Linked DNA regions of Homo sapiens: region 1 is linked to region 2. The links come from fine-mapping of genetic effects on gene expression. Tissue or cell type: thyroid. Region 2 holds a variant in brackets; the other region holds the start of a gene. All regions are shown on one strand. Distances are from middle to middle.

What was found. PIP is the estimated chance that this variant, and not a neighbour inherited with it, causes the effect.
Region 1: it holds the start of LINC02673, and the variant in region 2 is the best candidate, but not a certain one, in a credible set for the expression of LINC02673 in thyroid (GTEx, PIP 0.61).

What each region holds. Positions count from the first base shown.
Region 1 is chr10:27,340,203-27,348,488 of GRCh38, forward strand. It overlaps LINC02673 (long intergenic non-protein coding RNA 2673), which reads left to right and starts at 3,234. Exons shown (of 2, transcript NR_187428.1): 1 at 3,234-4,449; 2 at 4,537-4,715.
Region 2 is chr10:27,284,082-27,292,367 of GRCh38, forward strand. It overlaps the pseudogene ODAD2P1. Among named protein-coding and RNA genes, the nearest start is that of ACBD5, 47 kb to the left of the region's middle. The variant G/A (reference allele first, on the strand shown) is at 4,763.

The sequences.
Region 1 (8,286 bases), 56 kb after region 2:
TATATATTATAAACACCTATCAACTGTCTTGAACACCTTGAAATCTTTACCATAATATACTATGAGAGAGGAATTGATAACTGAAGTATTTACAGAGGCAAAAGGGGTAAGTTGAGTAAGTGATGTGCCTAGGTGGGCACAGCAGCAAACTGGAAACATATGCTTTGTGTAAAGCTAGAACCTCTTCAGAGCATACCAGTCATATGGGCTCAAGAGACACCAGATTCTATCCTTTAAGAGGAAATCCAGATTTCTGCATGTCTCCTAAATTTTACACGGTGACTTAATTTATGCAGGCAAATTTTGCTTTCTTGTAGTTTTACACTAATTGGAAAGAAAAAAAAACTTGGGTGGGAAAAAATGTTTGAATAAGTTTTACCTTTAACAAATTCAAATATTTATCATAAGTGCACAGAAAAGCCATACTCTCTAATAGTTCTTGTAAAAATATTAATATTAAAGTAAAATCTTAGACAAGTTCTTTCAAACTATTTTCATTTGAGGAATGTTTGAGCTTCCAAATATAAAAAAACTTGCATATGTTAATGTTAAAACAAACAGATTTCAAATATTTTGAAAATAACATTGGTTAAGGTCTACCTTGTTTTTCACTTGGATGTCTGCACCACGTGACAGCAGTTTTGCCACCACTGACAAATTCTCACTATAAACAGCATAATGGAGAGCCATGTTGCCATACACATCTACAATATTTGGACTGGGACCAGAATCTACCAGAATATTTGCATAAGCCTCCCTCCAGCATTGTAGAGCCTGTCAGTATTAAAGCAAGAAGTGAATTATAAATTATAGGAAATCAAAATAAATATTTCACAGGTTTCAGAAACTAGTTGTATTTCAATGAGATAAATTCATTTTTATTCCACGTATTTAAACCAAATCCATCTCCTGCTGAAAGGACTGGCTACTATTTACCTTCATCAGAGGTGTCCTGTTTTCACTGTCACGGACATCAAGCCGGCACTTTCTGTCTGCCAGAAGTGTTATTACTTCCACATGGCTGTTGACACAGGCCCCATGTAGAGCAGTCCTATGAGAGTGAGAGGACTTTTTAGGAAAGTTTAGTCCATTGTCTCAAAACATACAATGATTTATACAATTGTAAACATTAAATACCATGCTCTTTCTCTGCCTTCAAAACAAATATTTAATATTCTCCTTAAGAAAGTACAACATTCATTCACTCTTATTACTCACTACATTAATGAAAGAGTGGCCTATTTGAATAGAAAGAGCTTGGCCTTTGGACTCAGTTCAACTTGGGCTTGAATAAACTTTACGGTCTTTCACTTACTAGCTGTCTCTTAACCTCTCTGTGCCTCAATTTTCTCATCAATAAAGTGAAGATGAATACAGCAGTTATCTCACAGGACATCACTGTGATGCCTCGATGAGAATCTATGCAAAGTATTTTGAAGAGTTTTTAGCACATGTAACAGCTCAGTAATTGTTAGATATTATAATTATAACTTCTACTTAACAAAGACAACATTTTAAGTAAAATAATACAATCATGCCTACTTTGTGGTGTGTTTTAAAGGTTACAGATAACACTGTATTTTAACGGTTCTAAGATGCTCAATTTCTCATATTTTAGCATCTCTGACATTGAAATGCCACTTACAATTCATTATTTATTAGAACTATATTTGGCAAAAATTTAAACAATCTTTTATTGGTACATAAAATAAGGAGGCATCACACAATTCAGGGTGCCTTCCATGAAGTGGAATATGGTATATACAACAGGACGATGGTAGTCCTAATCACAGGATTTACACTTAAAGAAATTTTAGCTTTTAAGAGTACTACGCAAAAGGAGAGTTGAAATAAAAACAACAAATTGTTAAAACAAAGTACTCCTTTAATATTTTAAAAACTTCAAGCCAAAGAAAACTTGGGATTCAAATGAATAGGTATGGCTCATTTTATTTTGTATTTAGATTTACAGAATGTATATTAATTCATATTTAGATTTATGGAGGGAGTACATGTAAATTAGGTATTTCCAATTATTCATATTACTATTTAAAGCTGTTATAAATTTCCAAAATCGTGGTTGGTAGTTATCTTTTACTAATTTCTCACTTCAGAAGTATTTTTGTTTGAAAGATGAGAGGAAAAGCTTCAATTGAGATTCAGTCCTATTACTCCAATTTTAAGCCTCTCATGTTGCTGAGGCTGAGCAGGTAAATGTGAAATTTTTAAGGATGAAAGGGTCTTGAGAGTTAATAGAATGTGTCTTCTACATAATAGGCATTCAGCTTACATGTGATAAATGGATTCAAAGAATGGATAAATATAGTTGGGAAGTTCAATATCTTAAAAAACTGCTATAAATAAAGCACTTATATTTGCTACTTTATTTTCCTAATAACAAAACTACACTAAAATGATTAATCTGTAATTATTGACATATATATAATAAATCTAGATATAATAAAAATATGTTTCTAATAAAATGTACATGTAAATCAACAAGCACAGATAAAAAGTTTCTCTTCTGAAAATGCTAAAAGTTCACAGAATATACTAATCCACAAAAAATAAAAATTAAAATATAGAAAGTGAAAAATTATTTTAATCTGTGCAAAATTCATATTCCTGCTCTTCCCCAAAATTATTTCATTAATAATAAACTTTTACTAATAACATTGTACTTGTTCAATGCAGAAATCAAAGATAATAAAAAGGAAAAACATTTTATATTAAAACAAATGCCCTCAAATAACAAATTTTATCATATTTCGTACATAATTTCAGATAACACAAGACCATCATCTGTATGTATAAACAAACTGAACTTTACCCTTACTTGGTACACCAAAATACATTTTCAAATGTCAACATACTTCTGTATATGTTTCTACATTCAGTGGTCACATTTTATCCCACGCTGTAAATTCACTGAAATGTATTTATAAAAGCCATTGTATGGATTCTTCTTAATACACTGATATTTTAAGCAGCGCTCAAAAAAGAAATTGTGTGTATGTTTCCTTATTTTCTAAAAATATCTTAATGTAATAGAATTGATCACCAACAGGCATATACAATTTTTTAAATATGGTACTTACCACCAAATTGTCTATTTGAAAAGTCATCTGCAACTTAAACTTTAAGCAGCAGTATAAATATCACTGCTCTTTATCCTCATAAACTTTGTGGATAGAAAACAGTATTTGATTCCTGTTTTAACTTAAATGCCTTCTCTAACGAGGAACACTAAATATTGTTTCCTGTGTGCATAAGTCACTTGCAGATCTAGAAGAAGGAGTTTGCCCAATTTTAAATTAGAGGCAAAGTACTTTTCTTAGATCTGCAATTTACATCTCTAATTTAAATTGCCCAATTTTAAATAGAGGATTTTTTTGTTGATTTGAGTGAATTCTCTGTAAAATGAAGATTTTTAAATCTGCTATATATACACACATGCACATACATGTGTAGTAAATATTTTACAAGTATGCTGCCTTTTATTTTTTCTCAAATGCAGGGTAATTTTTGTTTTGCTAAATTAACCTTCACAATGCTTATTTCTGAGAGTCTTAGAAAGGTTTTGTCAACATAAAAATGTATCTGTGTAAATAGGCATTTATATTTTCTTCTGATTTTTTTTCATTTTGTATATTAAAAATTTTTAATCTATATTCCATCAGGAACTTATTTCTTTTATGTACTGTAACTTTGGCATTTTTTTCTAGAGATCATCAAACCCAAGAGAGTCTAGATTTTCTCCTGTTATTTTCCAGAAGTTTTATAGTTTTGTATTTGACATTTAGGTCCGTGATTCATTTTGACTTAATTTTTGTGAGAAGGTAAGATCTGATTCATTTTTTTTACATGTGGGTATTCAGTTGTTCCAGCACCACTTTCTGAAGAAACCAACCTTTGTTTCATCATGTTGCCTTTACTTTTTCATCAAAGATTAATTAAATATATCGATGTGTCGCTATTTCTAAACTCTCTGTCTTGTTTCATTAACCTGTCTATTCTTTCATCAATATGATACTGCCTTGATTACCGTAGCCTTACAGTAAGTCTTGAAGTTGAGTAGTGCCTGTCTGTCCTCCAGCTTTGTTCTCCTTCAATATTGTGTTAGCTATTCAAGGTCTTTTTCTTCCCCATATAAGCTTTAGAATTACTTTTTCTATATCCATAAAATAATTTGCTTCCATTTTGATTAGAAGTGCATTGAATCTGTACATTGGTAAGAAATGACATCCTGATGATACTGAGTTATTCTATTCATGAATATGATGTATCTTCTCCATCTCTTCAGTTCTTTTTTTATTTCCATCATCACATATGGACAGTTTATGAAATTACATAACTCCCTCTACCTTGACCAAAGGACAGTGATGAATTCCTCGTTCTGCAGCCAACAAGTCACCTCTGAGGGCCATGTGTCTAAACATAGACAGGAGGGTAAGAAAATGATAAAGACATCCTGGGAAAAATAGGAAATTCGAGAATCAGCAACTGTGTCTAAGTAACTCCTTTCCATTTCCCCAGGACACCTGTTGCTTCAGCCAACACCTGCTGGCATGTGCTGAGGATGCTGGTGCTGCTGGCTTTCCCAGCCCTGCCCCCGGGGCTGCTTTGGGTGTGTGCCTCTTGACTTTAGTGAGAATGTACTTTTTCATCCCTACCATGGGTGAAAAGTTTTCACAAATAAAAACTTTTTAAAATAATGCCAACTTTTGTATTAGATAGAGGTGCTGCGTGTGCAGGTTTGCGTGTGTCTTTTTGGTAGAATGTTGTATTTTCTTTTGGGGATATTCCCAGTAATGAGATTGCTGGGTCAATTAGTAGCTGTGTTTTACATCTTTTGAGAAATCCCCAAACTGCTTTCCACAGTGGCTGACCTAATTTACATTCCCAGAGACAGTGAATAGGAGTTTCCTTTGCAGCCTCGCCAGCATCTGTTAACAAATGACCACTTTTATTCCAGACATAGATCATCTGTTAGTTTTGATTTTAGCACATCCTCTGAAGAAGATAGTGTTTTTCACAACCAAAGATGATTTCACCTTCCAAACGTGTTTTTTTTTTCTCATTTTCTGATGGCATGCGGAACTTTCTGTCTGCATCAGTTTGGGTATAAGTTAAGAGCATTGTACCTTGAAGTGTCCCATCTCACTGTTCCCATGCAGTGTTCTGTCCCAGAACTCTTCACTAGCTTTTTACCCCTGTGGGCCCAGTAGGGAGAGGAGCCCCCCAGAAAGTCTTTCACCAGGCAAGTGACGAACTAAAGAATTACACAATCATGTGTGACTGTTCTCAAAGCTCCCAAACATAGAAAGGGGGACAGTTGCAGGCAATACAGCTTTATTAATGGCAGTAACATCTCAGCTCAGCAGGAAACATACTGTGGGCTATGAGAACAGGTTACAATGAATATTGAGGCAGAAAAAGTCACATTAATCACATATTAGCCCCAAAATGCTCTTGCTCAAATGGTAACTGTCCTTCCTGCACATGTGGCAATACCAGACTTGCAGAAAGCACACGTGGTGAGAGACAAAGCCTGCTGCCTGTCTGTGAGCTTCAGTGCCCAATGAGACGCAGCAAGCTTTCGCCTCTTCTTTCTACACTCCTGCTTTTATTGCACAGTACTTTTTTACATATGTTTTATTCCATTTTTGAATGTTGTATTCCATTGGTCTTTCAGACTAATGATGAAACAACACAACACAATTTTAATTTCCAAGTCTCTACAATATTTTAAAGGGGAAGTCACTCTCTTTTAATTCTCAGACTTTTCATGGATATTTTAATTTGTTTGCTCTTCTTTACAATAAAATTTCTATATCCAGAACACAGATGTTATCTATATTGGAGTTAAAATCAACTTATTTTATTTTTTTTATTTTTTGACTTTTATTTTAATCTCAGGGGCACATGTGCAGGATGTACAGGTTTGTTACATAGGGAAATGTCTGTCAGCAGGGCGGGGTTGTTGTACAGATTATTTCATCACCCAGGTGTTAAGCCTGGTGTCCATTAGTTTTTTTTCCCGATCCTCTCTCTCCTTCCACCTTCCACCCTCCGATAGGCCCCAGTGTGTGTTGTTTCCCTCTATGTGTCCATGTGTTCTCATCATTTAGCTCCCACTTACAAGTGAGAACATGCTGTATTTGGTTTTCTGTTCCTGAATTCCTTTGCAAGATAATGGTCTCCACCTCCGTCCATGCCCTTGCAAAGGTACATATACACCATGGAATACCATACAGCCATAAAATCAACTTATTAATTAAAGTACTTTTGATGTCTTAATAATGTTGACCCTGCCTAATCATGTAATGTCATAATTTTTCATTTATACAAATCTATTTTTAGGTTTTTAAGAAACATTTCGCACCAATTCCATACTAATTAAATTATTTTAAATAATTTTCTTTAAAATGTTGGCATTATCTCTTTTCCATCTATGAACACAAGACATTCTCATTAATTCAATTAACATAATTTGTTGTGTTAATGAATTTCCTAACGCGATGAGTCTCACCTGCATTTCTGGAATAAATGGACTTCCTAATGATCTAATATTTTAAAGGGTTGGCACAATGGTTTTTAACATTCAAAAATTTTACTTTCATATTAATATGCTCTAATTATGTATAATACTCCATGCGGCATCAAACAAGTAAAGTTATCATATCAGTTTTTTTCATTTTTAAAATAGTTCAGTTTTATTCTGCTAGTACCATAAAAACAATGTAAACACAAGCGCTTTGTACATCTTTCTGGTGAATTCACATAATGCTTAGTTCCCTGATCCTTTGACCTCCTCGTCTTCTCCAGTTATTTTCTGTTTGAACCACTGGCCTCAGGAGTGGAGTAGGTTTGGTGCTTAGGAGAGAGCAATGTGGCTTTTTGGTATGACTCGTTTGCCCTCTCAGCACACTCCCGTTACTCCTAACACAAAGCTTGAGGTTTAAGTCCTTAAACCTGTAGGTTTCACCATCAGCTTTTTCTTTCTTTCTTTCTTTCTTTCTTTCTTTCTTTCTTTCTTTCTTTCTTTCTTTCTTTCTTTCTTTCTCTTTCTTTCCTTCCTTCCTTCCTTCCTTCCTTCCTTCCTTCCTTCCTTCCTTCCTTCATTTCCTCTTTCTTTCTCTTTCTTTCTTTCTCTCTCTCTTTCTCTCTCTCTCTTTCTTTCTTTTTTCTTTTTCTTTTTTTTCTTTTCGCATAGGCATTACTAGGGATGTGAATGGGAGACTGGTGTAGAAAGTGCTGAGGAGCCGAAGCCAACAAATTGCTTTAAACACAAGATGAAAATGCTCTGTTCCATCCACACAAAGAATCACCTAATACTGGTGTGAGGCATCTCACTTAGCTGTGGAGGAGTCCTTGGAATTAGATCTCAGAAAGACAGTTCTGGCTTTAAGACAGTAAAACCTTTTGGCAATGGGCCAATTGCCTTGAAAAAAAAAAAAAACCAGAGTTCTACTTTAAAGACCTTGCAAGTGGAGAATTGTCCTACAAAGATTCTTGGAAATGTTAACAGAGATAACTGACATGGGTAACTGGGGGCCAACCAGGAACTGTCAACAGCCAGATCTCAGCAAACACAGGACAGCCAGTTAATAGTTCCTTCAGTTCTCTGATGACCACAAATGTAATTTTATTTTATTTAGCCTTGTGGAGGTTCTGCAACAAATGTAATTTTAAAGGAATTGGGAGCCAGAAAGATAAATGCAACTCCTTCAACTGTGTGACACGGCAGACTGATTAATCTGGGTTCCCAGAGTGTGGAGCAAGTGCCCTGCATTTGCACTTGCAGATGCAGAACGGCCCAGGGGGAACTTGCATGATGCTGAACCCCACAGGACAGAATTACTTCAATCGCCTGCTCCTGACTACTATAAGGAAGAAGTCTCAGTGTCTCAGTTTGGATCTACACTCGGATTTACTTGTCTTTTCTTTCCTTTCTTTCTTTCCTTTCTTTCTTTCTTTCTTTCTTTCTTTTCTTTCTTTCTTTCTTTCTTTCTTTCTTTCTTTCTTTCTTTTCTTTCTTTCTTTCTTTCTTTCTTTGTTTCTTTCTTTCTATCTTTCCTTCTTTCTTTCTTTCTCTCTCTTTCTTTCTTTCTTTCTTTCTTTCTTTCTCTCTTTCTTGTTCATTTCTTTCTTTCTTTCTTCTTTTTTTTTTTCTGGAGATGGAGTTTCCCTCTGTCACCCAGGCTGGAGTGCAGTGGTGCAATCTTGGCTCACTGCAACCTCCACCTCCTGGGTTCAAGCAATTCTCCTACCTCAGCCTCCCCA
Region 2 (8,286 bases):
AGATGCTTGAATTCAGGCTTTCCCTCTTCCAGGGTCCAGAGAGCATAATCATAGTGTTTTACACACAAATTGGCTTTTGGAAGCGCAGAAATTGGGGGTTCTCTGTGCCAAAAAAACTGTAAGAAATTAAGAAAATCATGGAACCTTACAAATTAATAAAATTTAAAAATTGCCCATCCTCTTTCTATGCTCCGAAATGGAATAGACTAGAAAAGACTTTTATGGATGAGAACCCACTGGGAGTTGGAGAGAGGAGAGGAGGGAGAGAAACAAAGAAAATGAGAATGAATTGATATGAGCATGAAGGCTTAAATGGACTAGTCCTTGCCCATGAGCTTAATGTTGAGTTAGAAACTTCTAGAGCGATGAGGAATAAAGTGTACTTTCTCATAAGTCTTTTTATAATTAGACCACAATGATCGTGATTCCACTAATTCTATTTTTGTAAATCCAAGTTAAACATCTGCAGATGGCCCGTTTTCAGCCCTGGTTGATTTCACTCCAGGTTTGCACTGTGTCAATAACCTTTTTATGGATTACTGGGGACCCAGATATGTTTTCTAAAGATTAATGGGAGCCCAGAATGAATACACTACTCCAGGGGGTGGCTGGCAGGGTCCTTGGGTTCCTCTTTCCCACAGACACCACTCTAAATGCAAACTCGAATGAGTCCTGTCTCCTCCTGGACTCTCCTCTGTATCTTGCTCTGCAATAGCCCAAATGAATCATTCTTCCACTTTGCTCTCTCTTCTACATTTTTTTCCTTGCCCCCACCTCATACTACAAGGAAATGAATTTTCTTATATCCTAACCCTATGCACCAAAGCCTCCACTCTCTCCTTTCTTGCATTTATTGAAACTTTTCCATGACAGCAGCGATTCTCCTTCAGATCTTCTTTTCCCTAGGCTCTGTGTAACCACAGGGCATGGGGACCGTAGGCGGAAATCTCCTCTTTATTGCTTCAAACTACCTTACTCTTCAGATTAGATCTCCTTTTCTATGAGGCTGATGTAACCCTCTGTCTTTCCTGGTTGCTGTTTTCTATGGACCCATTGTCACTGACGATTTTGACATTGACTCACTATCACTTTCATCCTATGTCCCATCATCATCTTGAAAAACCTGAAACCCCAGGAGGAAAACCAATACCAAATCTTGGCCTGCGCACTCCCTGGTTTCAGTCTCACTGACTGTTGCCTCCTCTCCATCAAGCTGCTGCTACTGCCACCTCCTGGAATTATCACCAGAAGTACCCTTCTTCCAAAATCTAAACCTAGACTGAATTTTGTTCATTCACTTATTCATACCTGCTTTAATTTATTAATTCTTGTAGCAATTATTTACTGACTTCCTTGTGCTAGGGGAGACAGTATAAAAAGTATAAAAGACAGAAACGGTCCTTGCCTTCATGGAACTTACGAAGACACTACAAGAAAACACAGAAATAAAAATTTTCTGATGGTGACCAAAGTGGACAAGGTACTGAGCTACAAAATAATGGGAACTTAGGTAATTACTCATAGACCACAGATTTGATTCTGTTCTTGCTGAACATCGAGGTAAACACAAAAACCTAACCAGTTACTTAATTTATGTGGTCCTTAAGATGAAAACAGATCAGATCTTCAAAGACAAAACCACACCTTTTCCTTGGAGTTTAACAAAGATACTGAAATACAGTATTCTTCAATAGCATTCCCTTGATACCTGGCAGCCAGCAGGCCCTCCATGCATGTGTGGTGAATGAATATGCATGATAATACAGAACTATCTAACACGTATTTCATGCTTTTTGTATGCCAGGCACTGTTATAAGCTTTTTACATACTAACTGCTGTTATCATCCTCAATTTGCAGGTGAGGAAACCGAGGCACGCACAAGTTAAATGACTACCCCAGCTCCTCTAGGAACCAAGATGAACAGCTCTCATTACGAATATTTGTTTTAACACAGCCACTTTACTAACCATGGAGCTTTGTTCAAATTGTTATTATTACAGAATCTTGCTCTGTCATCCAGGCTGGAGTGCGGTAGCGCAATTTTGCCTCACGGCAACCTCTGCCTCCCAGGTTCAAGTGATTTTCCTACCTCAGCCTCCTGAGTAACTGGGACAAGAGGCACATGCCACTACACCCAGCTAATTTTTGTATTTTTAGTAGAGACAGGGTTTCACCATGTTGGCTAGGCTGGTCTCAAACTCCCAACCTCAAGCAATCCACTCACCTCGGCCTCCCAAAGTGCTGGGATTACAGGTGTGAGCCCACCACACCCGGCCCAAATTATTTTTAACTCATTGTCTCTATAATGAGAGTAATAACAACCTCATAGATTGTTGAGTGAATTAAAATGAGACATTTAACCCACAGTCTGTTGTCCTGAACTCTCGTGGCCAAATGCATGCGGTTCTGAAAAACTCACTTTAAAAAAGGGTAATGAAATTCATATAATATATATTATATGATAACCTCTATTGGAGTGTGAGCCAATACCCTATAATCAAAAACATGAGCATTTCTGTAGTGAAACATGAATATTCACACTGAATGAGAGGAATAAAGACCATAAATAGTCTAGTATCAATTCATATAAGTCTTTAGCAACAAGTTAAGTCCAGTGGGGAAAAAAATCAGTTTTCAGAGATTTTTCAATTTCAGAATTAGAGGAAAAGTATTGTGGACTTGTGTGATCTATAATGGTCATTGACTTTATGACTTTGATATTTAAGGACACCTTAATATGTGATTGGCAAGGGCCACATTTTAAGTAATTTTGGATCCTTCAATGTGAATGGTTTTTTTTCTCCTCTTAATTTCTCTGAGGTTTCCTTGCTTGTAGAATGTGGATGATAGAGCCTGCTTTGCAAAGTGGTTGTGAGGTTTAGAAATAATAAATATAAAGTGCCTGGGACAGGCCGGGCGCAGTGGCTCATACCTGTAATACCAGCACTTTGGGAGGCCGAGACGGGAGGATCACGAGGTCAAGAGTTTGAGACCAGCCTGACCAACATGGTGAAACCCCGTCACTACTAAAAATAAAAAAATTAGCCAGACGTGGTGGCGCATGCCTATAAGCCCAGCTACTCAGGAGGCTGAGGCAGGAGAATCACTTGAACCCGGGTGGCGGAGGTTGCAGTGAGCCAAGATTGTGCCAGTGCACTCCAGCCAGGGCGACAGAGTGAGACTCCATCTCACAAAAAAAAAAAAAGTACCTAGGACAAAATAGACCAACCTACACAAAAATGGTGGCTGCTGTTGGTATTATTTAATATTAAAAATAGCTAGAAGATTTAAAAGTTTGCTTCTGTCCTGTGAGATGAGGAATATGTGGGAAACAATATCAGGATAAATATCCTGGGTTCAGCACCTCTCCACATGTGAGTGATGGATGAGTAGTTCCTGAGACATCACTGTGGATTTGGTGACCCAATGGCAGTAACCTGGCATCCGGCAGTGGGAGGTGGAGACAAGTTGGTGTGATGAGTGTGCATGTGCATGAGGGACCTCTGCAGGGACATAGGGCATATATTGGATTCCAGAAGGCTCTTGTAATACTGTTGTCCATGCATCAAACCATAGAATGTGGTGTACTTCTGTGGAACTCAACACTTTGCATGGTAATGTCTCTCAGAGTTGGTGGCTAACTCTTTGGTCCTGAACCTGATTATGTTCATGTTATTGCTGTTCTTTGGCACCTTGTGCCCTTGCAAGTACTTCAGTGTAGGCATTATGGAGGGATGTGCTGAATATTGACTCTCTTTGGTAAAAGAGACTCTTTCACTTTAGGGCCTTGTGGCACTGCCCAGTTGAACTTACTGGAATAATAGAAATAGTCAATATCTGAGCTGTCCAGTATGGTAACCACGAGACACGTGGGCCATTGAGCACTTGAATGTGGCTAGTGTGATTGGAGAACTGGATTTTTAATTTTCTTTAATTTTAGTTAAATAAATAAGTTCAAATATCTGTAACTATAGACGACCACATGCAATGAGTGGCAGTCTTATTGAAAAGTGCAGCCTTAAGACATTCACTGAATACCCTTGTTTATTTCTCACTGTTTTCTTTATTATGATTATTGCACCCAGAGCAATTGCACCTGCAATAGAGACAGGTTTATTCACCTCACGCAGTTCCTTTTTATTTTATTTTATTTTATTTTTGAGAGAGAGTCTTACTCTGTCTTCCAGGCTGGAGTGCAGTGGTATGATAATGTAATAATGGTTTACTGCAGCTCAAACTTCTGGGCTCAAGCGATCCTCCTGCGTCAAGCCTCCTGAGTAGCTGGGATTACAGGCATGCACCACCATGTCTGGCTAATTAAAATTTGTTTTTGTAGAGACAGAGTCTTGCTATGTTGTCCAGGCTAGCATTGAACTCTTGGCCTCAAGTGATCCTCCCACCTCAGCCTCCCAAAGCACTGAGATTATAGGCATGAACCACTGCACCTGGCCTCATGTAGATCTTAACAGAGATCTACTAGAACTCAGAAGGTGTTGGTATCTGATCCATTGCTTGTGCCCATGTTGCCAAAATATGATTATAACCATCTCCACACTGTAGCTTACATGTGTATGTGTGTTGTTATTGTTCTTAGGAAGAGTGCTGAAAAGATTGAGGAAACTGTTAGCGATAGCTCCTCAGAAAGTGAGGAAGATGAAGAACCACCTGACCATCGTCAGGAAGCAAGTGCAGATTTGCCATCAGAATATTGGCAAATTCAGAAGCTGGTGAAATATTTAAAGGTAAGAAAGGCCTGTGGTA[G/A]TATGTTTGCAATGTTCATTTAAAATACTTTCCCAAGGATGTATATGCTGATTCCAAGTTTATGTTTCTTTCAAATAAGAGTAGTAAGCATTCCTGTTGTTTTATCTAAGTGTGTGCAGGGAAAGGTCTTATTACCCTGAGGATGCAAGATTCATCCTCATGGAGCAACCAGGCTGCCTGGTACCAACCCTCTCTCCTGGCTGGGGAGTGCCCATGGTAAACAGCTGACACTGAGACTTGCTGCCATTTTATGATTTGTAGTATGGTATGGAAGAAATAACATGGATTTTTAAAGCGGACTTTGGTTAAACTCCAGGCTGTTTCCCTTACTAGCAACGTAGCTGTTGAAACGTTACAGTTTTGAGCCCTAATTTTCTCAACACTTGGAATAAAATTAATATACCTGTACTACAGGACTATTATAAAGTTTAAGAAAACACACTTGAAACATACAGCGTGGTTTCTGAGACATTGTGGGTGTTTATAATGTGGATTGGTTCATTTTCATTTCTCTCAAGTCAGATAGCATATATGAGAATATTTTACATAATAATTGGCCACGTAATGTATTTAAGTACTTGAATTTGCAGGAGGGCAAGGGGAATGACTCACCAAAACCCAGATTAATATTCATTTCTGATGTCAGATAGCAAGTATTGATGATATCTAGGCCTTGTGTAAAGTCGACGTCCAGAGTATTTGAAAAAGCATTTGACTCAACTCATGTTTTCTTTCTGCTTTTCCATGTCTTTGGTCAAATCAACCAAGGGCATTTGCCAGTGGCTTTGCTTGATTCAATCATTGCAGTGTAAACATTTATCAAAATATCACATTGTACTCCACAAAAATACACAATTATTCTTTGTCAATTAAAAATAATTTGTATTTTGGCTGGGCGTGGTGGCTCACGCCTGTAATCCCAGCACTTAGGGAGGCCGAGGTGGGTGGATCATCTGAGGTCAGGAGATCAAGACTAGCCTGGCCAACATGGTGAAACCCTGTCTCTACTAAAAATACAAAAAAATTAGCCGAGTGTGGTGGTGGACGCCTGTAATCCCAGCTACTTGGGAGGCTGAGGCAGGAGAATCGCTTGAACCCAGGAGGCGGAGGTTGCAGTGAGCCAAGATCGCACCATTGCACTCCAGCCTGGGTGACAAGAGCAAAACTCCATCTCAAAAAGTAAAATAAATAAAATTTTGTATTTCAGAAAGGACATGAGCTTATACAAAACAAGCCCTAATGCTCAACTTGGAGATCCTTTTGGCAGGCTCTTAATGATTTTACCAACATCAATGCAAAATGAAAAATATTGTTTTTTGGTCTGGACTGTTTGTCATGAAACAAACCTCTAGACTACTGGAGAGAACAGTTAATATTTTGTGAGTTTTAAAATTTCATGTTAAGCGTGATACTTCATAAATATTAAATATTTTTATGGCATCTGTCAATTTTTAAAATGTTTTTTATTTGGCATTTATTTTGTGTTAATGTTTCCCTCATTTAGTGTTTCATATTATGAAATTCCTATATCAGGTGCACATTGTTGTTACATGTTGTTGCAGTATATAATTATGTCACATATTTTGGCTCATAATAATAATAAATCATGCATTTATTACATAAGTTTTTTTTTTTTACAGAAAACCTCTGAAATTTTTAGCATAACTCTACCACAAAAAATGATTCACTGTTTATTATGATAGAAATGATTCACTATTATTACAGGCATTCATTATTATTTAAAGACATGTAAATTAAATGTTAGGAAAAATACAGAATAATATAATTTTGGGAACTCATGAAAATTCCTAGGAATTTTGATTGTATATTCCTGAATCTTGAAGATGAACCTGTCGGGAATTTGGAAACACTAGCATGGAGCACAGGCTAGATTCAGGCCACACGTTTCTGCACTCCCCTTTGGCAGGAGTATTTGTGCACAAACCACATAGTTCAACACAGAGGTCCCGCCTGGCACACATGGCGACCATGTCCAGCCTTGGGACATTTAGGACAACCTTGCAACAGTGCCTCTGCATCTTTACTGAACCCCAGGGCCTCCTGTAATTACCTCTCCTGGACTTCTAAAAAGCATGCCATCTGGGGAAAAAAAAACAAAACTGGCAGTGGAGAACTTTGCCAACACCACTCTCTCTCTGAGGCGGGCAGCTCTAGACAGGGTGACTGAGGCTTAGACATGGTCCGCCCTTCTTCCTCTCCTTTCCTCTCCTTTCCTCTCCTCCCCTCTCCTCCCCTCTCCTCCCCTCTCCTCCCCTCCCCTCTTTCCTTTTCTCTTTCCTAGGCTGATCCTGAACTCCTGGCCTCAAGCAGTCTTCCCACCTTGGCTCCCAAAGTGCTGGGATTGCAGGCATGAGCCTCTACACCCGTCCAAGACATAGCCTTTCAGAAGATGAATTAAGAGAGGCCTGAGTTTTTCCCAGGAGTCCTGGTCCATTATCTTTATTTCATTAGCAAAAGGAAACAGAGTCAAAATGGCAGAAGCAAAAGATGGGCTAGGAAGCAGAATACCAGAGTAATTAGAAGCACGATCTTTGACGTTGGAAAGACCAGTTGAGTTGAAATTCTGCCACTTACTCAATAGCCTTGGATGAGTTGACTAACCCCTCTAAGCTTCAGTTTCCTCATTGGTGAAGGTGGAAAAATAAAAGTTCTCTTATATTAGGATTATTAAGAATGTTAAATGAAATACAACACATGTAAAGTGCTTAGCACAAAGTAGTAACTGTTGGCAATAATAATCATTGCTATTGCTTATTATTATTGTAGCAAATGTGTGGCATGGAGACTTAACTGACTCGTGCAGGTGGCCTTCAACTTTTACTTTCAGTTCTCTAGCAACCAATAAAAGGGGGGAAATAGAGTGAGTTAATACAGGGAGGGAAAGTCTCTCAACGTCTTAAAATAAAAACAAACCAGTTGCCAGTGAGTATAACTGATCCTGGTGCTAAGAGCAGGAAGAATTTTCTCCCTTAGGATTTAATGGGGCAGGCACAGAGTGAGAGAGTGAACAGCCGCAATAATACCCTCCCAGTGAACATGGCAAAGAGAGTTTCTCATAATAGCCTAATTACTGGATAACTGTCTTGAGTTTTTCAACTATTTAGGATAAGTCCAGGTAGCATTAGGCCAAAAAGAGATGCACTATTTCTGTCCCAGTACAGCTAAAAAAAACATTTATTGATGAAGTGCTACTTAAATTTGCACGAGTTATTCATCAATAAATCATGTGCAAATGTGATACTCTTGGCCAGACAGTAAATTGCTTGGAATTCTTATAGTTCCCACAGGTAAATATTCTTCATGTAGCCAATAAAAGGAAAAGTATATCTTTAAATGATTTCAAGGTTTTCGACACAGATAAATATTCTATCTGGAGACATAAAATGATACTAGAAGTCTATGAAATGCAAAGTTGAATGTCTCTAGGCAATCTCAAAATAAATACACTTAACATTTTAATTTATGAAATTATGATTTAAATGTAGATTTAAGCTAGCAGAGAA